Linked DNA regions of Homo sapiens. The protein of the gene in region 1 interacts with the protein of each later gene in a pairwise test. Each region holds a gene or a part of one and is shown in the gene's direction. Other genes may lie near its edges.

Evidence for each region.
Region 2: the proteins of SLC22A2 (region 1) and LAPTM4A interact in a protein complementation assay, tested with the Homo sapiens proteins (one large-scale study listed by BioGRID).
Region 3: the proteins of SLC22A2 (region 1) and FAIM2 interact in a protein complementation assay, tested with the Homo sapiens proteins (one large-scale study listed by BioGRID).
Region 4: the proteins of SLC22A2 (region 1) and FZD5 interact in a protein complementation assay, tested with the Homo sapiens proteins (one large-scale study listed by BioGRID).
Region 5: the proteins of SLC22A2 (region 1) and SLC47A2 interact in a protein complementation assay, tested with the Homo sapiens proteins (one large-scale study listed by BioGRID).
Region 6: the proteins of SLC22A2 (region 1) and ETV5 interact in a two-hybrid assay, tested with the Homo sapiens proteins (one large-scale study listed by BioGRID and IntAct).
Region 7: the proteins of SLC22A2 (region 1) and CLPTM1 interact in a protein complementation assay, tested with the Homo sapiens proteins (one large-scale study listed by BioGRID).

What each region holds. Positions count from the first base shown.
Region 1 is NC_000006.12:160,238,322-160,241,821, reverse strand, and holds part of SLC22A2 (solute carrier family 22 member 2), read left to right. Parts: intron 1-235; coding exon 236-348; intron 349-3,500. UniProt on the Homo sapiens protein: Electrogenic voltage-dependent transporter that mediates the transport of a variety of organic cations such as endogenous bioactive amines, cationic drugs and xenobiotics. Functions as a Na(+)-independent, bidirectional uniporter.
Region 2 is NC_000002.12:20,034,629-20,038,128, reverse strand, and holds part of LAPTM4A (lysosomal-associated transmembrane protein 4A), read left to right. Parts: intron 1-514; coding exon 515-591; intron 592-690; coding exon 691-813; intron 814-3,066; coding exon 3,067-3,162; intron 3,163-3,500. UniProt on the Homo sapiens protein: May function in the transport of nucleosides and/or nucleoside derivatives between the cytosol and the lumen of an intracellular membrane-bound compartment.
Region 3 is NC_000012.12:49,866,396-49,869,648, reverse strand, and holds the end of FAIM2 (protein lifeguard 2), read left to right. Parts: 3' UTR 1-2,753; downstream 2,754-3,253. UniProt on the Homo sapiens protein: Antiapoptotic protein which protects cells uniquely from Fas-induced apoptosis. Regulates Fas-mediated apoptosis in neurons by interfering with caspase-8 activation.
Region 4 is NC_000002.12:207,762,098-207,764,981, reverse strand, and holds the end of FZD5 (frizzled-5 precursor), read left to right. Parts: 3' UTR 1-2,384; downstream 2,385-2,884. UniProt on the Homo sapiens protein: Receptor for Wnt proteins. Functions in the canonical Wnt/beta-catenin signaling pathway. In vitro activates WNT2, WNT10B, WNT5A, but not WNT2B or WNT4 signaling. In neurons, activation by WNT7A promotes formation of synapses.
Region 5 is NC_000017.11:19,713,785-19,717,984, reverse strand, and holds the start of SLC47A2 (multidrug and toxin extrusion protein 2), read left to right. Parts: upstream 1-1,400; 5' UTR 1,401-1,429; coding exon 1,430-1,552; intron 1,553-2,749; exon of another isoform or gene 2,750-2,767; coding exon 2,768-2,869; exon of another isoform or gene 2,870-3,195; coding exon 3,196-3,264; exon of another isoform or gene 3,265-3,639; intron 3,640-4,011; coding exon 4,012-4,160; intron 4,161-4,200. UniProt on the Homo sapiens protein: Multidrug efflux pump that functions as a H(+)/organic cation antiporter.
Region 6 is NC_000003.12:186,067,590-186,071,089, reverse strand, and holds part of ETV5 (ETS translocation variant 5), read left to right. Parts: intron 1-3,500. UniProt on the Homo sapiens protein: Binds to DNA sequences containing the consensus nucleotide core sequence 5'-GGAA.-3'.
Region 7 is NC_000019.10:44,972,380-44,975,879, forward strand, and holds part of CLPTM1 (putative lipid scramblase CLPTM1), read left to right. Parts: intron 1-707; coding exon 708-831; intron 832-2,059; coding exon 2,060-2,218; intron 2,219-3,500. UniProt on the Homo sapiens protein: Involved in GABAergic but not glutamatergic transmission. Binds and traps GABAA receptors in the endoplasmic reticulum (ER).

The sequences.
Region 1 (3,500 bases):
TTTTGGTGTTTTTTTTTTATTTCAATAGGTTTCTGGGAAACAGGTGGTATATGGTTGTATGAATAAGTTCTTCAGTGGTGATTTCTGAGATTTTGGTGCACCCGTCACCTGAGCAGTGTACACTATAGCTCTTGAACATTTTAATTATTTGAGGAAGTGTTTATTCAGGGGTGGATGGGAGATAACTACTGCACTGTGATAAGTTAACAAGTTAAATCAGTTTCCTGCATTCTAGGAATCTTGGCGTCCACATCTGTTCCTCAATGTGTGACATTGGTGGCATCATCACGCCATTCCTGGTCTACCGGCTCACTAACATCTGGCTTGAGCTCCCGCTGATGGTTTTCGGTAAGAAATCTTCACAGATGTCTTTAAGTGAAAACTTATTTTTCTAGAGACCTTCACTTCTCTTCTACTTCATTCAAAACAGGTGTCATGCCTATTAGTAACTACTAATTACTACTCATAGTAGTAATGATGTGTCTGTGGCTTGCGTTCTTCCTGGATGTGCCTAGTAATTAGTAATATTATTAGTATTAGTAATACTAATCAATAATACTAGTTCAGTATTCATAATATTATCATCACTACTAATACTCAAGTATGGGACTCCTGCCATAGAGGCAGAATGTTGAAGAGAAGAATGAGAAGGAAGAAAGTTTCCCAGCAGCAGGCCCCTAACTCTCTCTCTGCTGATTTCCACCCTTCCTGAGGTCTCTGTCAAAGAGTTAACTCCTCCATGCCCAGAGGTGGTAAAACACAAGCCCTTTTACTTCTTACTTCAAAGAAGGGGGTTAAAATTTTGCAAAAGGCAATTTCAAAACCCAGAGGAAATAAAGACCCACATTAAGAAAATGCATCAGCATAATGGAGCACCTGTGTTGATGCACCTGGAGCAATTAGATTTCAGGAGCGTCACATAGCACTTCCCTTCTGCTACTGCCAGCAGGAACACACCAGCACTGAGCCTTCTCTGGTTAACTGGAACACCTCAATGCACCCATTTCAGGCTCCTTTGACACCCATTCTGAGCTGCTTTTAATTGAATATGTGATGCTTTTTCCCATGGGCATATAGCACTCAATTTAGGGGAAGAGAAGAAGAAGAGATTTCACTCTCAGATGTACATGAGGGTGTAAAGGGAAAGGAAATTTAAAAATCTCAGGACCCCCAGAATCCTTATGCAAAAGGGAAGACTAAGCCTGGAGGTTGAGTCATGCAACACCCTCTTCCAGATGAATAGCTGTTACAAGCATTATACATCATGCCTCAGTTATCTACAAAGGACCACCCCTGCAGGTCATTCATAAGTAAATTCTTTGCTGGCCTCCTGTAGACAAGAATTTTAGGTCTACAATCTAAGCTTAGCTTCTAAAACTAAAGTCTGCTGATTCCACACTGATAATGTTGATTGCAAGCTTATTTCCCAATGTACAGAATAAAGACAAGATCAGTCATTCCTCCACCTACTCAGAGAGGCCTGCATAATTGATTCTTTTCTTTACTCCCATTTTCTCTTTAAACATTCACCTTATCATATGTAAAATGTAAATTTAACTGGGCACTAGTTAAAGTCTCACAAGGATGGAAACATTCCTCTACGGCCTACCTGCCCCTCTCCCTACCTGCCTCCCTACTTTAAGGAAATGTATAAATACCAACCTCCTGAAAGCCTCTTTGTAAAAACAGCCACAGATGTGTCTGTGGCTCATTGCTTTTCAGGGACATGCCCTAAAGCTGACTTAATAAACCTCGACTGACTGGGACATTTTCCTCAGTCACTCATTTCCGTTATCAGGGGAAGCTCCCACCACTTCACTCCTAAGGCTGCCCAATGCCCCACACAGCTACCCTGCTCATTCCTTTTCTTCCCCTTCTTCTCACGGAATTTGTGAGGGGGAAAATTTTCCACCACTCTAGATCTGCCAGCAAAAGTTCCAAACCACTGATGGAACTTACCTGCAAAACAGATGCAATGAATTCCTCCATGATCCAGTTTAATAGCAATAAGATGGCCAAAGTTGACAGAGCACAAGCTCTTTATCCTGAGATAACTTGGCCACAGAGTAGCTGGTGCTACTCCTGAGACATATGTGACCCCTATTTCTTTCTCCCCCAACACTGGCTAAGGAAACTGTCCTCAGAACCCTCTTTTCATCATGAGGAGGTACCCATCAAACCCTCTGTCCTCCTTCCTGCCATGGAGGAAGTTAGAGACCACTCAATCTTGGCCACTCCCTTAGGTGGACAGTGGGTGACTAATGGGTCAGCAGGACATTTCTGGATAGCAGATGGTTACTTCGTTACTGGAAAGAGGTCCTGACCCAGACCCCAAGAGGGGGTTCTTGGATCTTGCACAAGAAAGAATTCGAGGTCAATCCATAGAGTAAAAGGAAAGCAAGTTTATTAAGAAAGTAAAGGAATAAAGAATGGCTACTCCATAGGCAGAACAGCAGCATGGGCTGCTCAGTTGAGTAACCTATAGTTACTTCTGGATTATATGCTAAACAAGGAGTGGATTATTCGTGAGTTTTCCAGGAAAGGGATGGGCAGTTCCTGGAACTGAGGGTTCCTCCCCTTTTCAGACTATATAGGGTGACTTCCGGACATCACCATGGCATCTGGCATCTGTAAACTGTCATGGTGCTGGTGGGAGTGTCTTTTAACATGCTAATGCATTATAATTAGTGTATAATGAGTAGTGAGGATGACCAGAGGTCACTTCCATCGCCATCTTGGTTTTGGTGGGTTTGGGCCAGCTTCTTTACCACTTCCTGTTTTATCACCAAGGTCTTTGTGACCCTGTGTCTTTTGCTGACCTCCTATCATCCTGTGACTAAGAATGCCTAACCTCCTGGGAATGCAGCCCAGTAGGTCTCAGCCCCATTTTACCCAGCCCCTGTCCAAGACAGAGTCACTCTGGTTCAAACAACTTTGACAACTTCATGTTTCTCTAAGTACTATTTAACAAATAGTACTTTATTGACCCTTGTTCCTGCCTGACACCTTCCTGCAGGAAAGATAAAGGATTATAACTACATTTCAATATTTAAAGTAAACTCAAAGACAATTCTAATTTTATTCTTGAAAGTAATTTCATATTCTTCCCTCACTAACCTTTAGTATGAGTGGCTAGTGGAAAGAAAACCTAATAGTTTTTCATTTTAACTTCTTTCTCTTTCTTTTCCACACAATAATGGTGTGCTAATTGTGGTCTTGAAATAGCCATAAAACGATAATCAAAGAAGACTGAAAGTCAACACACTGGAAAATCCTGGCTGAAAGAGCACTGGAAAAATCAACAAGGATTATTCTGGTTAACTAGGCCTGTCTTTGCAAATATAAAATGCCAAACGAATGGTAATTTTATTAATCAGTTGTATTCATCATGATTCACTCACTTCAGAGATTCAGATGCCAGCTGAATGTGTTTCTTGTTTGCATTACTTACAATACAATAACCAAGTGAATCTTGGGAGGCTTGGAGACATTTTGAGAGG
Region 2 (3,500 bases), on another chromosome or scaffold:
ATGTATGTAGCATTCTGAGTTTAATACACTTGTCTTTTAAGCAATTGCCAGCCATTCCTTCCAGCTAAACCCTACTCATAAGACCCATCTTGTGTCATTTCTTCATATTTTTTCCTGATGCTTCAGGCAAAGCAAATTGTTTCTGCCTCTGTTGTAGCACTTGACACATTGGATTATAATGATCTGTTTGCACATCTTCAGATTCCTGGGCTCATAAGGGCACAGGGACCTGTTTCTCTAGCAGAGAATGTGGTTCATGTGCCATCCTACACCCATGTCAGTGAGTCGTTGGAGCGATTTAACAAATAAGTGCTTTGTGTGAATGTCTCAAGGTTCCTTACTTCATGCTGAGACTTTGATTTTTTTTTTTTTTTTTTACCCTCTTGGCCTTAGATCTTTTTATAGCCAATTTTGAAAATATTTAAATTTAATATTTTAAAGCTAGCTTTAAGTGAAGTTTTGTTCTTTTTGTTGTGTAAGTAGCTTAATTAGATTTTTGTTTTTGTTTTCTTAGATAATGCCTGTGTTCTTTTTGCCGTCTCTGTTCTTATGTTTATAATCAGTTCAATGCTGGTTTATGGAGCAATTTCTGTAAGTATACTGTATTTTCATCTTTTAGAGTTTGACCTTAGGGGAGCTTAGTAATTTCCTATATGTGATACAATGTTATGGTTGTTATTTTTTCTCCAGTATCAAGTGGGTTGGCTGATTCCATTCTTCTGTTACCGACTTTTTGACTTCGTCCTCAGTTGCCTGGTTGCTATTAGTTCTCTCACCTATTTGCCAAGAATCAAAGAATATCTGGATCAACTAGTAAGTGTGTATGCTCATTAAACTTATTTTTTTTTCATTTTGAGTAAAATGTTTACATTTAAATTCTGAATCAGCCTTAGGTATTATTTTTAACTACTCCGCTTGCTTTTGAAAGTGTCTTAAAATAATTATTTCTGCTCTCTTAGCTACTGTGACAAAACTGGCAAGATGAAAGTAGAGTAATTTCTTACCATCCATTTGGATAATGCAGTATTAAGAGTTCCTAGAAATGGATATTATGGAACTAGTAGTTCAGCTTTTGTTTTTGAGCATCCAAAGGTACAGTAATTTGACTGTGTATGGCACTCTTTAAGTGACTAGCTTATTGTCTTTACAGACATCTGTAGCAAGTATTCCAGTGCCTACTATGTTTTTAGCCCTTTGCTAGGCACTGTTGGTGAATGGTGTGGATATAAAGATAACTGCGAATATTACAGTTTAGCGAGCAAACTGTAATATTTGGGGAGTCAAGATACATGAAGATGTTACCTGTGATAACAAGCGGGAGCTGTCACAGCAGCAGCAAATAAGGAACTTCGATTAATGTCATATGGAGGGGGGCAGGGAAAACTCTGGGCTGGGTGGCCAAGGAGGGCGTCGTGGAGGTGGTCAGAAGGAGATATGGGATCTAGGTAGATGAAAATTGGCAGGAGTATCCTCAGTTCATTTCCAAAGTGCTGTCTTTCAGAACTTTTCTTCCCACTACCAGATTTCCTGCCTAGCCCATTTTCCACACCACCAAATTCATCATTCATTTATTCAGAAAACATTCGCTGGTTGCTCTTATGTGCAAGGCACTCTGCTAGGTCATAGAGATGCATCAGTGGAGCTTACTTCCTGGTGAAGGAATCAGGAAGTTGACAGTTAACTGATACACCATTGTAGGTTACTGTGGGAGTGGATATCACATGGGTACTAAACCTGGGCTGGGAAGTGAGATTTGAATTGTACTCAGGAGTTTGAACAGGAATTAAGATAGAGAAAGTATAGAAGACAATGTTCCAGATAAAAGAGAGACCTTGAGGCAAGAAGCAGCATAGTGAGGGCACTAGAAGCTGGCCATGGTGGCTGGCACACAGAGGGAGGGTGGGGAAGCCTGGAGAAAGGTGGCCAGGGGCAGGGCTGTTGGCCTGGTCAGCCACGGTCAGCGGCTTCTGTGTGGCTCTCTGCTCATGTCATCTCCGGGGGAGAAATTTCAAGTGGTGCCTCCCTGCCTTCTGAGTAAAACCCTTAGCATAGCATTCCCTCATGAGCTCCACCTTCTGTGTTTTTCTTTTTGTTTATAGATGAAGATCAAAAAAACAGCTTTTTTCCCAAGGAGACAACCTGGCTGGGGTTTGGGGAGTAGTGTGTTCTTAAAATTTTTTTTTTCTATTTTTTTCAGTCCTTTGGGATTTCTGTTTATGTTGCTTTTTAAATGAAAATGTAATTAGGCCTTCTTGTTGACATTTCCATTAAAAACAAGCATAACTTAAAAAAATTAAATCAGCTTTATAGAAAAGAAGATAAAAATTTATTATTCCTTTTAGAGACCCTGGTGTTTTCTCTCCTCTGTTTTGTTCACTTAGTGCCTCAGACTGGAAGGTATTTCCTCTGTTGGTTAGTTTTTAAATCTGAAATTCTTCTTTTATAACACCTTTCTCCCTGAACTTAGCTCATTGCCTTGTACACAGTCAGGGCTGATTAAGTATTTAAATGAATATAGCTGATGCTTTTCAGTAGAACAGAGTATGTCTGCAGTAAAACTTATGTCTTGCCTGACATTGTAACCAGTGGGTGTATTTTTGCCCCTGTCTGATGAGAGTTGAGACAAACGATTGACATTTAGAAAAATAATTTTCCCCTTGTAGCATTAAAATGGCCCAGTTTATCTGTAGAACTTACACAGAACTGAGCATCTCCTGAGTTAATGATGCAAGTGACACAGGGACTGATCTCCAGTGCCATATAGGCGATAGTGTTTTTCCAAAGGCCAGAAAGATGGAAAATAGTGAAAAGTAAAGAGAAAACGAGCTAAATTTAGACTTTTTGGAGCATTGTGGGTTATCAAATGTACTCTAAGTGATTGTTAGCATGCATTAATGGTGATAAGGCTTAAAATTTAAAAGCACTTTGAATTAAATTCTGCTTATACATTTTTATTAAATATCACTTTTGACTTTGGTGCCTTTGTATTCTTCAGATGCTCTTCAGGTTATCAGCAAGTGCTAGTGCGATGGCTGACTTGTAAATGTGTGTGTGTTTCTTTAATAGCCTGATTTTCCCTACAAAGATGACCTCCTGGCCTTGGACTCCAGCTGCCTCCTGTTCATTGTTCTTGTGTTCTTTGCCTTATTCATCATTTTTAAGGTACGTTGCTGACTAAATCTTTAGGGGTGACTGAGATTGACACTGTGAATCTAAACCTTTTTGCTGCCTTTCACCTTACAAGTCACAGGAGATTGAGGATTTGTGGGGACAGTGTTTATTCTGGCACATGAGCAGAGATAGCTTCTAGGGAATGGTTTCTGTTGTGTTTCCAAGGAATGGTTGTAACTGTCAGGATCCTTCTCTGAGTGAAAGGACCTACTTTTTATGTTTTTGAAAAGGGGTTCATGATTTGTATTGAAAATCTGTTAAAATTCCCAAGGTTCACAAACCCAGAATTTCTTCTGCAGCACAGTGGGTTGACCTGAATTGAAGCTCCA
Region 3 (3,253 bases), on another chromosome or scaffold:
GCCACAGGCCTAAGGCTGAGTGAGGTGTGATTGGGCCCTCCGGCTGGATGTTCTGGGGGAGGAGGCAATCGCTGTAGCTGCCAGGCCAGCCCCATCTGGAAGGAGTCCCTGCTCTGCCTCAGCCCTAACCCGAGGCTGTGTGGGAGTCCCTTCTGCACCTCTTATTTCCTAAACCCTTCCTGTCAGCTGCTGTTTGCTGGCTCGTCCCCAGCCAGGCCTCCTGAGGTCTTCATAGTTGGCACAGTCCACATCTCTTCTAGCTTCACTGGCCACTCACTCAGCCCAGAGTCCCTAAGTGCTCCCCCACTTATCTCTGCATCTCTCCAATTTGGAAGCCATCCAGCTGATGCTAACAGCCAGGGCCAGTCCCTCCAGCTGGTCCCATGTAATGAGGCCAGGGCTCCTTATCAGCTTCCAGGCGGCTGGGATCTCAGGCAGGGTGTGCGTCAGCCCTCCAACCCCCAGAGGGGCGCCTGTGGGGAGGGAACCAGGAGGCCACACTGGGGGAGCGTGCAGCCAGCATGTGCAGTGGCCAACTCCAGGCCAGTGGAAAGTTACTGTGTGGATACAGGAAGGCTCTGAGTGGCTAGCAGGACCCTCCCTTGGCTTCGCCCTCCTCCTCTTCTCTCTCCCCTGTGCTGGGAGCTCCGTCTGCCTTGGGAAGGGAGACGAGGTGTGCTGTTCCTTCCCAGCCCCATCCCTCCCCACCCTTCCTACTCCCAGCTTTCAAGAAACATTGCAGAAGCATTTGAAGTTTTGTTCCATCTTGGATATTTGAAGAGAAAAGGAGCCAAGAACTGGCGGGTGGTGTGTGTGCAGCAAAGGCATTGGGGGCACGGGTGAGATGCCCACTGTGTGCTGGTCTAAATTAATCCATCGCAGTGATCCTCCAGAGACAGCGCTCTGCTCATGTCCGTAGCAGAGGGAAAAGCCGAGGTGCTCAGAAAGGCTCGGTAATGAGTCCCAGGTCATACGGCTAGCGAGTGGCGGGCCTGGGGTTCAGACCCACAGCTGCCTCAAGCAAACAGGGTATCACGCTTGCCCCTGGGCCTGGGTGGGGGCCGGAATGAGACCACATGAGAGCGCAGAGAGGTGGGTGGTCAGGCCCTGATGTCCTGGGGATTTCTTGTCCTCAGTGCCACCCGGCCTCCCGTCTTTCCTGAAACCCCTCGCCAGATTTTGCACTCTGAGGTTTCTATCTTCCAGACAAGAGCTGGGAGGCAAGATTTCTGGTTTCTGGTTCCTAGCCTCACTGCCAGCGGGCTCCTGCTATTAGGTGAGGGTTTCTTGCTGTCTGGAATTCAGTTTTTCCATCTGCCACATGGAAGTTCATAGCCAGGATAGGGCGGGAGAGGCACCAGAACATTTCTCTCCACTGACTTTCTCACCCGGTTCCCACCCTCCTCCACCTCCTCTCCTCCGGGCCCCTCAGTTTCCTCTCCTCATCTCTGGCCTCAGTTCCAGAGGGTTAGCCCCAGCACCCCACTCTCCTGCCACTGTCAGATAGCCTTGGTCATGCTTCCTAGAATCTACTTGTCCAAGTTCTCCTCTCCCTGGGATAAGTTACTGCAGAAACTGGGGATTTAGAAGCTTATTCAGGGCTGAGTGCCAAAAGCTTGGGGGAGGAGGGACAGGTCCTCGGCAATAAACAGTGTCACACACGCATCACAGCCATTTGAGAAATGGCTTCTTTGCAGAGCTGGGGAAGCCGGGCAGAAGATGCCGCAGCCTCCTACTCTGGGTCCTGAGGGGGGGTGGCAGGTACCACAGTGTAGGCAGCAGGGTCAGGGCCAAAGTCTATGCGTTCCATCTCCAATCCAGGCAGTGAGGAATCCTGAAACACCAGGAGAGGCGTCAGAAGTAGGAAGGGCAGGGGAACAGGAATGCAAGATTAAGGAAACCGCAGCTGAGCAGGTGTCACAAGCTGTAAAGGAGGAAGGGAGTCTGCAGGCCCTTCACATTTTTGGCCTGGGTGGGGCTGGGCCCAGGAAGGGGTGGGCTGGATTTTGTAAAGCTGGAGGCAGCCAGGAATCTGACTGTCCGGAATGTGAGTTGAGGGGTCTCCCACTGAAGTCCTCTTCTGGAAGCTGCAGATGGGGGCCCGGGAGGCACACACGAGTCTGGGACTCATTCCCGGGCACACCTATGGCTCCTTCGGTATCACCTGGGGAAGCCCCGGAATCTTAGTTCTTCCATTCCCTACTCTTCCTTCCGAGGGAGTCAGGATGGGACAGACACCCATTTTCCAAAAGGCTCCTTGCCTCCTTCCCTGGCCCACCTGAAGCCAAGTCCCAGGTGTCCTGGCTGCTCTCCTGGGCGGGGTGGGATTTTTGCATAAGCACTTTGCTGCCCTCCAGTGGCTGCTTGAGGAAACGCAGGGCCTGGTTTGGGAGAGTCACCGAGGGCCCATGTGGCTGGAGGTTGGGGGCAGGATCTGGCCCGAGCTCTCCTCAGACCTCCCCAGACCTGTCTTCTCATCAGCCACCGCTGTTTTCTTTTGCCGAACGATGGTTGCATCTCTCGGACACAGTGTACCCCCTCCCAAGCCCTCCCTGAGCCGTTCTCCTGAGTCCCTGAGGGCAGACACAGCTCCAGGGACCCAGGCCAGCTGCCACACCCCCGACACTCCTGCTGTCCACTGGCCTTAGCTCCTGCAAGTTCCCCAGTGTCCGCACCTGTTCCCTTCCCTGACCTCACCTTCCTGGGGTCTGTGACTGACTGGAGATAAAAATAAAAGCAATTGTGACACCTGAGTTGTTTCCCTCGTCTGCCGTGTGCTGGTTGCCTCAGATGGTCGTGGAGTCTGTGTGGGTCAAACCCGGACCTGTGTGAGAGCCTTCTCACCAGAGCTGCTGAGTTTGAAGTAAATCTCCATGTTTATTTTCATGTGGACAGGGTTAAATTGGTTCTCCTGCTCAATAAACCCTTTACGGAGGCTCTCAGGATCCCGGAGTTAGAAGCAATCCCAGAGTCTCCTCCGGAACAGGGGCTCACCCCTTTCTGTGGAAGCCTGTCCGTTTGTGGGCCGTTCTGGTAGAAGGGTCTTTCTTATTTTGAGCCAAAATCTGCTTCCTAAAAGGTACACAGAAGGAAGGAATGCCTGGGTTGCATCTGGACAGATTGTCCAGAGCGGCAGCTTTAAAACCACAGAACCTTGGCTGGGCTCAGTGGCTCACGCCTGTAATCCCAGCACTTTAGGAGGCCGAGGTGGGTAGATCACCTGAGGTCAGGAGTTCGAGACCAGCCTGGCCAA
Region 4 (2,884 bases), on another chromosome or scaffold:
TACAGAACTTTGTGCCTATTTTATTCCTCTATTTATTCTTCTAGGAAGAAGCCTCTTCCTAGAATCTTGAAATAGATCCCTTGACTGAATGCCAATTCCTCTCCTGTTTTTCAAATGAGAGAACCTTTTCTGATCACCTTGACCTTTTCCCTCATTTCATATGTCTTCCCAGAAAGTAGACAGACTGCTCTGCTGCCTTCAGTCATTGTGCCTCATTTGGGTTGTCCCTCCTTCTTTGTGGAGAAATCTGGAAATGATGCACAGTGTATCCAAAAGTTGTGGGATGAAGTGGATGAAAGTGATTTAATTCATTTTTAGAATTTTTTTTTGTTTTGTTTTAGCAACATGCTGAACAACTAATTTACTTTAAAAATAAGCCAGTTAAAACAAAGGACGCTAAGCCCAAGTGGGGGGCAATATTAGTCAGGATCTTTGGGGTCTAATTCCAGACCAACTTTCAGAAGCACTTCTTTGTCTCTGTTCTCACCTCTGCTGTCCCTCTCTTCCCTCATCCCCTAAGAGAGACAAAGATAAAAGCCCACCTGCATCCCTAAGTCTTACTGAGATCAGCCACCCCAGGGGAGAGAAACTGGATCTACTTACAGCCACCCCCTGTTTCCATCCATATAGTTACTTCCCCCAATTTGCATGTGATTATGGAAACAAGTCATGCTCATGAAAGCAACTGTAAAATAAAAGGTTATGGAGTAGTTCAGCAACTTCTTCACAGCCAGCTTTGTGGAGCTGGGGAGGACTTAGGGCCCATTGGAGTCTCTTATGTGTACAGCTTCAGGGCTGTCCCTTTCAGTTTGATTTTAAGCAATGCCTCACTTCATAGCTTAGGGGGTAAGGATTCCATTCAGGTAGGTTGTCTAAAGGAACTAATGGGACCTCTCAGTGAATTAGCTGACCAGATTTTAGGAAATCTTTTTAATTTCTATGATTTTCCTTCTCACATTTTGAAATGGTAAAATTGACTGGAAATAATTTTTCTTGGTGCCTTATTGGTTTTCCTTGCAAACCTTTCTCATATTTTCTCATGACCATTGCCAGTGACCAAGGCCCATGTGTGTGTTGTGTGTAATTGTGGGCATGTACAAGCTTAAATAACGTGCCGACAGCACTGTTTCAAAGTTGGTATTCATTAGGCTGTTGCCTCCTGGGCTGGAGCTGCGCTAATCCTGACACCGGCTGCCAGGAGAAAACCTCATGGATCACACACCAAACCTTAATAACAGCATCCGTGACCTGCACTCTCCAGTACAGAATGGGAACCCCAGAGCTAGGAAATGTAGTTGTATATTTTAATGAACTGCTACCCCAGCCAAAGAAGCTTCTTTCACTTTTGTGCTCTACAGAAAGCCCAAGGGGGGTAGGAGGGACAGAGCTTTGAATAACTGCTTTCTAACACTAAATGTGGCCAACAGGACAGAGCACATCACACGTATAGGCAGGTGTGAGGGACAGTGGCTAAGAATTGCCTGCTCCCTCTGCATGCTCTTTCTTGTTTCCAAAGTCCAATCAAGTGATCCTGGGAAACAAATCTGTCTGGATTGCGGAGGGTGGTTCTGAAAGAACTGCCAAGACGTTAAAGAAGGGTGAAGAGTAGGCAGAATATAAGTAGCTAACCTGAGTCAAGACTCTCAAAAGCTAGCAGCCTGATGACAATAGGATTTATTTCAGCCAGGATAGTGTCTGTCTGTGAGTGCATCATTTTAAGACAGTATGACTTCATGTTGTTACAAACTATGTATAGTATGTATGTTTTGTGGGTTGTATATATACATAATATATATTATATATATATATGAGAGATTTGGTGACTTTTGATACGGGTTTGGTGCAGGTGAATTTATTACTGAGCCAAATGAGGCACATACCGAGTCAGTAGTTGAAGTCCAGGGCATTCGATACTGTTTATGATTTCCATATATGTATAGTGCCTATCCCATGCTGTAGTCACTGTTATGTTAAATCCAGAAGTTACACTAGAGCCAGCGATACTTTATTTGTAGACAATCAATTTGAATCCATATGTTATTACTGGCAGATGATACATGATTACAGTTCTGAATCTGTAACACTTACAAAAGGAAACCCAGAGCAGCTTGATGAGTTTTTGTTTCTGCTTCGTTCCTGGGAGTCAGTAGAAACAGCAGTTGTATGTGGTTATGTTAGTCTCAAGATACTTAATTTGTTGACCTTACTTCAGAAAAATTTTGTATGTATTATATTTGTGGGAAGGTAAAATAATCATTTGAGATTTTTATCAAATATGAAGATTAGTTATTTATGAAAAACAAAGAAATGTCTATTTTTCTTTGTTCCCAATTAATGTAGATAAATTTTAAAATGCATTAAAGTAATGGTAAAGACAATAAAAAGATGCTGTAGAAGTCTTTTTCTCCTCATGTTTTTATAGAGAGACATTGCTTTCTAAGAGTATTCGAGGAGATAATACGGATTCTAACTTCATAATCAGGTTTTTCAGATGTACTTAAAATATAAGCAGCAAAAATTTTATTAGTAAGTAAAATCAAGCAAATTCCAATCACCAGAAACAGAACTAGTTAAGAAACATGTTTTACTTGAATATCTTTCCTAGGTCTCACTCCTGCCGATCCTGTGATTGTCTCATGAGTCACTTGATGAAGGCAGATACGTGGAAGAACAGAGACTTTGCCTGAGATTGCGTTCTATTTTATAAACCCTCCATTTACACTGAACCAATTTGATTAGAGATGATGCTGTTTTGTGCGTCCGGTTGGAGGGCAGGAACTCCCAAAACTTTGTCATCCAGCAGTTGGATCTGCAACTTGGTATTGCGCTCTAAATACAAGTCAGGGAGCCCAGAAGAGACAGTAACACTGACTGAGCTGGCTCT
Region 5 (4,200 bases), on another chromosome or scaffold:
TTTGGTGTCATCATCACAATCACGATGGTGATAAAATGTCTTCTTTCCTCTAGGCAGGTGGTAAAGGTACTATTTGGTGCACAGGTTGGAGAGTGCTGTGATAAGAACCATCAGAACAAGGGCAGGAATGTGACCTCCCAGGTGATCCTGGGAGGATCCAGTGGAGCGTTTCAGAATTCTGTGTCAAAAAAGAAGGCTGCGTGTTGACTGGGGTGGGGCTGTGCCTGTGTTTGGGGCCGCCCATGGGTGTAGCAAACCCTTTTTTTTTTTTTGTATTTGTCCTGCCTCCTCTCCTTCAGGGTCTGCTCCTTCCTCCTCGCGGCTCTGGGGGCTGCATCTCGGAATCCTGCCGGCCACTCCTCCGCTGCAGGGGTGGACATGGGAACCAAGTGGGGCCTTTGGGATGTCTTCAGCCCTCCCACAGCCACTGGCCAGCCTGCCTGCTGTCTTCCTGCCCCCCTCGCTCACTCCTCCTTCTCCTGGGCTGAACCACACCCAAAAGCTTGATCCAGGACTGGGCTAGGTGACCGGTGCAATCCTTAGATGCCTCTCTTGGTTCCCACTGCCCTGCTGGTCTTGAGGCAGGTTGAGGGGGGAGTCACAGGCCATCCCTGCAAGGAAAAGCAGAGAGGGCAATTTGGGAAGGTGACAGAGGACCCTGTGGGACGTCGAGTCACAGCCTTGCTGGGCACAGTGACTGGCGTGCATAGTGAGCTGCTTTCCCAAGCACTGCCACCCCTGGCTCTCAGATATGCTGCTGAAAGGGGTGACGGGCAGTGGGGGGCTTGGGACTCCGCCGAGGTGTCCTAGCTCCCATCCCTATCCCCAGGCCCAGGCCCAGGCCCCTCCAGCATGAAAGGCTAGGGACCGCACTGCCATGGGGTTTGCCAGGCCCCTGTCTCTTGGGAAGCCACCCCTCCCAGGGAAAAGCAGGGCTGAGGGCTGTTCAGGCTCTGCCACCACCTGCTCTGTGACTTCGGGCAGGCCACCAATTCTTCTGAAAAACGGGAGTCACTGTGGGCACCATCACGCCCGGGTACAGGACGCCCAGTGGCTCAGCTGCCCCAGCCAGGCTGCCCTGTCCTGGCCTCAGCACACCTCCCACAGCCACTGCAGGCAGCCCTGGACCTTCTCCTGCTGAGGCCTTACTGCCAATCCCTCTGGGAGACCAGACACAACAGGCAGCGGTCTGGGTGACTCCCAGGAACCTGTCCTCCCTAGTGGCTGAGGCAGTAGGCTTGGCAGCAGGGACTCAGTGCCCTAGGAGGCAGGGCTCATCCCACAAGTTGCCATGGTAGCCCCTCCTCCTGCCCCTTACTCATCAGCCAGGCTGTACCGACACGGGCTGCCCAGGCAGGGGGTGGCTCGCTGGACAAAGCTGGCCGTGCAGGCGCTCAGGCGTGCAGGGTAGCCAGTGCCCCGGCCAGGAATGGACAGCCTCCAGGACACAGTGGCCCTGGACCATGGGGGCTGCTGCCCTGCCCTCAGCAGGCTGGTTCCCAGAGGCTTTGGGACTGAGATGTGGACTCTCTTTGCCCTTTCTGGACCCCTGGTAAGGAGGAGGAGCTGGGGGGCAGGTAGGGAGTGGAGGAAGCTGAGAGGCTGAGGGTGTCTGCCTTGCAGGCAGGATCCAGAAATGTGCTCACATTTTCCCCAGAAACTGCCCATGTTGACTGCCAGGTCCAGAGTCTGGGGACAGCAGGATGGCTCCTGAAAGCTGTCTCTGGACAATCCCCAGTGGCAGTGGGGCCTGACTTTGCTCAGCAGCAGGCAGCCCCCACACAGAAGGGGTGGGTGTGCCTCAGCTGGAAACCCACAAAAGCCTGAGTTGGAAGATGGCTCCAGGACAAATGGGACCCAGAGATGCATGAAGCCTGCAGCACCTTCGCAGGGGGAAGAAGGGGCCGGCTACCCATTTCATTTCCAAAGGGGAAATTGTTTTAAATACATTTATTTTTTCTGATCATGAAGAGGAATAGGCTGGGCGTGCTGCCTCACGCCTGTTATCTCAGCACTTTGGGAGGCCGAGCAGGGAGGATCACCTGAGGTCAGGAGTTGGAGACCAGCCCGGCCAACATGGAGAACCCCCCGACTCTACTAAAAATACAAAAATTAACCAGGCATGGTGGCGGGCGCCTGTAATTCCAGCTACTTGGGAGAGAGAGGCAGAGAATCGCTTGAACCCGGGACGGGTAGGTTGCAGTGAGCCGAGATCGCGCCACTGCACTCCAGCCTGGGCAACAAGGGCGAAACTCCGTCTCAAAAAAAAAAAAAAAAACAAAAAAAACAAAACCAAAAAGGAGTAATGGAATTGCACTTCCTGTAAAACTTTTAGAAAAAAATGAAAGATATAAAGAAGAAAGAAATTTAACTCAAATCCTAGTACTTGGAAATAGCCATTACTAAGATTTTGGTGTATTTAATTCCCCTCCTTTTTTGGGGGTGTGCGGCCTGACCAAATTATTGTTATAATAGGAACTGCAATAGCAGTATCAGACACTTGGGTCAAGCTCAGGGCGCCAGGCACTGCGCTGCGCCAGGCACTGACCCTTCTGGGTAGGGACGTGGAGGCCAGGCGTGACTGCAGCTGCAGAACGCAGAATGGGAGCTGGGCTAGGTCATCCGACCTCCAGCCCTGGCTTCCCCAGGCGTAGGTGACCTCTCGGGGCACTGGTGCGGGGCCCTCAAAGCTGGAGAGGCCTGTCTTGCAGGGCTCGGCTGTGTGGGCACCTGTGGCCCCGAGTCTGACCTGGCCGCTGTCCTCCAGTTCCTGTTCCAGGTGCTGACTTTTATGATCTACATCGTGAGCACTGTGTTCTGCGGGCACCTGGGCAAGGTGGAGCTGGCATCGGTGACCCTCGCGGTGGCCGTGAGTACCCAGCTTGGCCCAGAGCAGGGACGTTCTCTCCCCAGGCTTCTCCACCGGGTTCCCGGGTGGGCCCGTCTTGGGTGGCTGGTCAGGGATGGGAAGACACAGCCCACGTGGCTGGACAGCTGCCTTCACAGGTGGAACCTGAGGGCCGGAGATGGAGGCGGTCTGGCCCTGGGGCACACAGCACATGAGGCTGCTGAGCAGAGCCTCTGCCACCGCTGCCTGCTGGGCAGCATTTCCTGACCCTGGCTCAGCCCAGATGCAGGGGCCTCTCTTCAGGCCTCACCTGACAAGCTCTTGTTTCCTCCTGTGTGTGGCGCCAGTTTGTCAATGTCTGCGGAGTTTCTGTAGGAGTTGGTTTGTCTTCGGCATGTGACACCTTGATGTCTCAGGTGGGTGGCCTCCTGGAGCTGGGCAGGAAGCCAGGCAAGGGCAGAGCCAATTCCACAGGTGCCATGGAGATGGCAGGTGGGAGGGGCGCAGCCAGGTGATCTGGGAGCAATGGGCCCTGGGGTCAGCTGCCCCTGCCCTACCTCCAAGGACCACAGGCTGTCAGGGAAACAGACCCTCCCCTTTGAAAGAGTCTGGGCCAGGAGAAAGGGGTGGAGATGGTGGAGACAGTTCTCTGATCTCTTGCCCCCAGAGGAGGTCACCAAGTAGAGAAAGACAACCGGTTCCCCAGCCTCAATCCTAAGTTCGGCTGCCTACATGCAGGCATGTGTCGAAGGCCAAGGGGACACAGAAGGAACCTCCCTGCTTGCAGGGGCCTGCAGTCCAGCAGGGGCTGCCCAGGTGGCCATGGGGTCACAAAGCGGCAAGGCCTCACCTCTCCCTGGGGGTTTTAGCTTCACGGTGGACCTGGGCTTTGTCCTGGCTCCACTTAACCTGCCGCTGACATGTGATGAAGCCCCATGTGCCTTCGTCCTCCTTGGAGCTTTGGAAGAACAGTGGAGACAGTGGTAGGCCCAGGCTCAGGAAGGCCGCTGTGCCATTACAGGCTGCGGGCGCCAGGCTGTGGTCACCAGAGGCCGCCGGGTCCGCCACACACCGCTGGCGCCGCTGACAGCCCGCTCCCCGCGCGGGATTTAGGAATGTCCCGGGCAGTGGAAACGGCTGACGCGGGGCGGGCTGTTTTGCAGAGCTTCGGCAGCCCCAACAAGAAGCACGTGGGCGTGATCCTGCAGCGGGGCGCGCTGGTCCTGCTCCTCTGCTGCCTCCCTTGCTGGGCGCTCTTCCTCAACACCCAGCACATCCTGCTGCTCTTCCGGCAGGACCCGGACGTGTCCAGGTGCGCTGGGCTCCGGCTGGGGAGGTGGGGCTTGCTGGGA
Region 6 (3,500 bases), on another chromosome or scaffold:
TGAGCTCGTGGGAGGAAAGGCGCTATATAAATCTGACAAATAAATAAATAACTAGTTCTTTAAATAAACTGGCACCGAAAAAGCCTTAAACTGTGACCTATTGAATTTAGGCTTATTCGGAGTCAGAAGTCCCTTTGCTCACCAAATGTGAGTTCCTTACACGTGCACTCTGTTGGGCTAATGGTGGGAGTGGATGGAAGGGAGGAGGTTAAGGGGAGGAAGAGGAGGTTTGGTAGGAACCAGGCTGTGCCTTCACTGAAAGTGATTGCCTGCCTTGGTAAATTAGAGGCATCTTTGTTGTAGCTGTATTATGTATACAACACATTCTTAGATACTTCAAAAGGACTGGAGAAGGGAGGGTGGTTCAAGTGAAGGTCAGTGAGTAAAGTTCACAGGATGTATTTTGAGGACAAGGACTGAATGACTTCACTAATCTCTGCACATAAAAGACATTATCAGCAGCAAGCTCTGAGAATCTTTCTTCCAAATATGTTGGCTTTGTGACCTACCCCTGAGATCCCCCTTGGCCACTCCTGCTGTCTCAAGACAAACCAGTACGGAACAATCCCAATTATAGAATCTGTTCTGCAGATCACAGGCCTCTAAGCTTTGCGCATCCTTAAAGTTATGCCGCGGGGAGGGGATGAGGTTGCTGGCTAGTGCCCATGTGGAAGTACCTTTTCCTGAGGAGGCCATACCAGGCCAACTCTAGAGTTTCATTCTGGAAGGTGAGAAAAGATGAGCACTAAGCGGAAGTGAGGCCACCAGCCTGCCAGCTGCAGAGGCTCTGGTTACAGAACTGAGCGGCACATGCCATCTCGGAGCTATCAAAGGAACTGATTTCTGGAGGTCACCTTCGAAGGTGCTGGGATGGTGGCAGAGGGGAAAGGGAGAGAAAATGGAAGGCGTTACTACCATTCCTTTCAAGTAGCACAAGATGTGGGCACTTTACAAAAATAAGGCCTTAAGAATATCTTCGGCCGGGCGCCGTGGCTCACACCTGTAATCCTAGCACTTTGGGAGGCCGAGGCGAGCAGATCACTTGAGGTCAGGAGTTCGAAACCAGCCTGGCCAATGTGGTGAAACCCTATCTCTACTAAAAATACAAAAAAAAAATTAGCCAGGCATGATGGCAGGCACCTGTAATCCTAGCTACTTGAGAGGCTGAAACAGGAGAATTGCTTGAACCCAAGAGATGGAGGTTGCAGTGAGCCGAGATTGTGCCACTGCACTCCAATCTGGACAAGAGCGAGACGCCGTCTCAACAAAAAATAAAAAGAATACCTTCATCAGCTGGGTACCGTGGCTTTTGCCTGTAATCCCAGCAAACTTTTGAGAGGCTGAAACAGGCAGATCACTGAGTCCTGGAGTTCAAGACCAGCCTGGCCAACATGGTGAAACCCCGTTTCTACTAAAAATCGCAGCTACTTGGGAGGCTGCGGCAGGAGAACCACTTGATCCCGGGAGGCGGAGGTTGCGGTGAGCTGAGATCGAGTCACTCGAGTCACTGCACTCCAGCCTGGGTGACAGAGCAAGACTTTTTTTTAAGTCTTTTTTTAGACTTTTTTTAAAAAAAAAAAAAAAAAAACAACTTCGTCTCTCTTTTCTGAAAGAATTCCCTTTAGGTTTGCGGCATGCTGCCGGTGCCCATGTTCTAAACGTCAAGTGTAAACCTGAGACGGGAATTTACACTTCTTCAAAGACCATTGAAAGGTTTCTTGAAGAAGTTGTGCCGTAAGGCATTCAGCGCCCCATGAAAGGCTATCAGCCCACTGAACCTTCAGTAGTTGGTAAAACTTGTTTAAGACATTGGCCAGGTGGATTCTGAGGCTTTTGATGTCTGGGATAAAAGGATAAGTACATGTAAATTGCCCAGTAGTTTTCATATTATAAAATGATCTTACCGTGCTGCTTTAGGTAGAGTAGTAAAGGCAGTATATTGTGCTGTGCTATACCCTGATGTAAACAGTGTTCTATCTGTACACAGATCTCTTCAGTTTAAGATTGTAAATCTTGATGTTCTAGAAATCTGCTGACCACCTGTTCCCACACATTGATTCAAATCAAATTCAAACTATTTTATTAAAGCTATTCAAGAATTCTTTGAATTAATAGAATTCAAGCTAAAAGTAGAGAATAAGACCTTAATATTACAGGATTGTATTATTTTTCCTTGAAGCTTGGCTCCTACTTTCTAACTGAGGGTATATATTCACAAATGCTTTTCTTTATACACATAGATTAGTGCTTCCTGTCTGTTTCATGGACTGAGAGTTCACACATCTCCAGCCTTCCACAACCACCTTCCTAAACTCTATAGTCTGTCAATTATGGCTGTGGCAGAAACCATACTTTACAGACATGATTGTATTTCACCATTTCAGGAGCATTTGGAGGATAATACATCCCCATGTCACAGATAAGCAAACAAAGCCAAGAAACTTTGCCTTTGGTCACTTCCCTACTAAGGCACGGCAGGCTTTCCCTTCTACACTGCACACCCAACAGGGAAAGGGCAGCTGGCACACATCTGGATTTATCTGACAGCTGAAGAGTGTTAAGGAAACTCGACTAGTAGCAACAGGTTTTTATTCTATCTTGTTAAAAAACAGTGCATATTTATTATCAAACTATAGATGAGCAAAAAAAGAAAATCACCTAAAATTATAACCACCCCACAGATAGGCAGTGTTAATATCTAAATGTCAGTCTTTCTGTGGTTTTATATGACACCATACTACTACTTTTATTTTTGCTAAGCTTTGATACTCTACGTACTGTTTAGCAACCTTCCTTAATATGTCAAAAATACCTTTCCAAGACCTTATATATTTACATATTATGTAATTTCTAATGGTTGCTTTCAACCAAATGACTGTATCATAATATATATAGCCAGTTTCCTTGTTAGACAGCTGCATTGGTGACCATCTTTGTAGTTATACCTGATCATCTGTGACTGAATTGCTGTTCAGGTACCTGGCACAGAATTAGTAACTGCCTGCTCATCTTCCAAGCTAAAAGGAAAAACACTTCTCTTCTGACTTTGTTACTTTTTTAATTACTAATGAGTTAAACTTTTTGTTTATGACCATTCCTATTCTGTAAGGATATTCCTGTTTATGTCCTTTGCCCATTTTTTTCCTCTTGAGATATTCATCTTTTGTTAATTTCTAAAAGCTCTTTTTGCCAACAGTGAGATTCCTGTATCTGTGGAGATTTTTCCTCAGTTTTACTTTTGGTTTTGTTTCTGGTGTTTTCTGACTACTGCAGATTCTTTCCCCCTGGTTTGATGTGTTTCTTTTGGTTTTGTTTCCGATGTCTTTTTAAGTTATAGAAATTTATACAGTGAGGTATATCCAGGTTTATCTTGATGATTTCTGCTGTTGGTATGATACTTAGGTTTTCCCTCACTCCCAAGTTTTGTAAGTTTTCATATATATTTACTTTCATATGATGGTTTCACTTTTTTTTTTTTTTGAGACAGTCTTGCTCTGTTG
Region 7 (3,500 bases), on another chromosome or scaffold:
TGGGACTACAGGCGCCCGCCACCATGCCCAGCTAATTTTTTTGTATTTTTTAGTAGAGACAGGGTTTCACCATGTTAGCCAGGATGGTCTCAATCTCCTGACCTCGTGATCCGCCCGCCTTGGCCTCCCAAAGTGCTGGGATTACAGGCATGAGCCGCCGCGCCCGTCCTCGTTCATTCTATTTTTTGTAGCCATTAACCATCCCCGGTTCTGTGCTTTTGAAGCGCTAGGATTCCAGATTCTTTCTTTTAAAAATTTTATGTTTATTATTTTTTCTTTATTTCTTTTTTCTTTTAATTCATCCATCTGCACACTGAAGGGGTTCCAGATTCTTAGTCTCCTCTCGGGGGATCCCAGGGGGCTGGATGGCAGGTTTCCCAGTCTGAGTCAAGAGTCAGCCCCTGCAGCCCTGTGGTCACCAGGAGCTCCTGCAGGATTTAGAGTCAAGGGTCTGCATGCAGACCAGGGCAGTGCCAGCTACCCCCACACACTGGCAAACGGTGGCATCTGGGCTCCCTCCCCAGATGTGGTCTTTAGGGACATCTTATCTCCTTGCCAGCCCTGTGACTACCTTCTCAGGGCCTCCCTGACTTGGTCACTAGCCCCAGGTCAGGCGCCAGCATGTGCTAAGTCAGAAGGAAGTCAGGCGGGTCTATGGCGGAGAGCCAAGGCTTGGGGACTCACCACCTTGCTGCTTCTCTCCTCAGGATCTTCATCATCTGGGCCATCAGCAGTTGGTTCCGCCGAGGGCCGGCCCCTCAGGACCAGGCGGGCCCCGGAGGAGCTCCACGCGTCGCCAGCCGCAACCTGTTCCCCAAAGACACTTTAATGGTAACTGCCGGGTGGTAGGGCAGACTTGGGAGGTGATGGGGTGTGGAGGGGTGGAATGTGGAGGAGTGATGTCAGCAGTCGGGACAGACCAGGTCCTTGCTCACTGGCAGGTCTAGGAAAACAGGTCCAGGGTTGAGGAACTCTGGGCCCATCCCCAACACGTGAGACCTCTGTCACCTGGGTCCATCCCCAGCACATAAAACCTGTGTCACCCAAAAGAAAAAGCAAATTCATTTGGTTAAAATAGGTTAAATCAGGGTCTTTGGATGTTATATTTCAAAAGTATGTTCAGCCTTTCAGGGTTGCAGAGGGAGATGTGCAAGGGAGAGAGTGTGAGAGGTGGGGAGGGCAGGGAGCCAGCAGAGGCTGACAGGAGGTGGGCCCGGAAGGAGAGGAGACCTGCACTTCCACAGTGGGCTTGGGCACAGGCAGGGCAGGGCTTCAGGAGCCTCCAGAGCAAAAGCATTTAGATCTGTCAGTCTAGGCTTTTCTGAGCAAACATGGCCATTGGGGCTTGAGAAAGGAGGAAGTTCTTGTTGGGTCACAGTGGGTTTTTTTTTTTTTTTTTTTTGAGATGGAGTCTCACTCTGTCGCCCAGGCTAGAGTGCAGTGGCATAATCTTAGCTCACTGCAACCTCTGCCTCCCGGGCTCCAGTGATCCTCCTGCCTCAGCCTCACGACTAGCTGGGATTACAGGCATGTGCCACCACGTCCAGCTAATTTTTTGTATTTTTAGTAGAGATGGGGTTTTACCTTTTTGGTACGCTGGTCTCGAACTCCTGACCTCAAGTGGTCTACCCGCCTTGGCCTCCCAACGTGCTGGGATCACAGGCATGAGCCACCGTGCCCGGTGGCTCACAGTGCTTTTGTAGCTCTGGACTGCTTCGTCCATAAGCCTGCAGAGCTCTGACCAGGAAGGCCCAGCAGCCATGAGGGCAGGAGATCATTCAGGGAGCTCCTGCCCCTTCCTACCCCTAAATTCTAATTGGCAGGCTGGCCAGTCTCCAAGTGTTCTTTGTTCGTTGACTTCACAGGCTCAGACCAGGACAAACATGGTGGTATGAGAAAAGAGAAAATATGTCCTCTCTGCTGCTCTTCCTCTCTCCTCTCCCCTGTCCTCCATAATTACTGTTCCCCTGAGTGTGCTGACCGCTGCCATAGCTCTTTAGCCAGCCTGCAGAGGCTCTGAAGAGCAGGCCTGAGCTCTGTTCCCTTCCTGTCCCAACAGAACCTGCATGTGTACATCTCAGAGCACGAGCACTTTACAGACTTCAACGCCACGTCGGCACTCTTCTGGGAACAGCACGATCTTGTGTATGGCGACTGGACTAGCGGCGAGAACTCAGACGGCTGCTACGAGCACTTTGCTGAGCTCGATATCCCACAGGTGGGGGCAGCTCTCGGTTTCTGGCCCCATGGCTGCTTGACTGGCACTGAAGGACCTTTTCCTCCAGTCCGCTCCTTGCTGAGAGCATGTGGAGTTTGGGCTCCAGGCTTGGCCCTTCCCTGGGCTCACATGGTCTGTGACCACAAGCCAGTCCCTGAGATCTCTGGGCTTCACTTTCCCCTACCTGAAAAAGGTAGATAGGGGTGGAATTGGCCTGGGACCCTCCCAGCTACCTCTAAGGTTGTGCAGTCCTCCACTTTAAACTGGTGAAAGATTAGTAATTGTCCTTGGGGATGTTTGCCTATCACCAGTTTATCAGGCAGCCCCGTTTCAAAATAATATTAGTTAATGTTGATTGAGCTAAGTGCAGGGTACTAAGCTAGGCTGACTCATGGAAATTTCCCGGCAACCCTGTGAAGCAGGAACTGTTATTATTCTCATTTAACATGTGAGGAAACTGAGAGAGAAGGAAAGTGATTTACCCAAGGCCACATCGCATGAGAGATTCAGACTCAGGCTCTACGGCTGTGGACTCTCGCAGCCCTAGGCTCAAATCCAACCTCCTCCAGGAAGCCCTCCCTGACTCACAGAGCACTCAGGCTTGGTTAAGCACCCTCTCTGGGTTCTCACACCTGCTGGGCTTCCCCATCCCAGCCCATTCTGGGGCCTCATTGGGACTCCTGTATGGGACTGTGAGCCTTGTGATAATAAGGCTGGGGCTGCCTAGATCACTTCCATGTCCCCAGCACTGCCCAACGTGGGGCTGGGTGCAGAATCAGCAAGTATTGAACAAGTAAAAGGGACATCTCTCTTTGGGGCCTTCTTCGGCTGAGTCCAAGACAGCTGCCCTCATTCCTTTCTCCCCAGCAGGCCTTCTCAGCTTTGGGGTGGAGGGCACATTTCTGTTCTATTTCTGTCTGGGTAGCTAGAAGCAGAATGTGGACACAGTCATTCTGGTTTTTTTTTTTGTTTTTTGTTTTTTTTTGAGACAGCGTCTCGCTCTGTCACCCAGTCTGGAGGGCAGTGGCGCAACCTTGGCTCACTGCAACTTCACCTCCCAGGTTCAAGCGATTCTCATGTGCCAGCCTCCTGAGTAGCTGGGACTAAGGCACACATGATCACACCCAGCTAATTTTTTTATTTTTTAGTAGAGACAAGGTTTCACTATGTTGGCCAGGTTGGCCTTGAACTCCTGACCTCAAGTGATCCACCTACCTTGGTCTCCCAAAGTGCTGGGATTACAGGCGTGAGACACCGCGTCCAGCCATCATTCTTTTCTTTT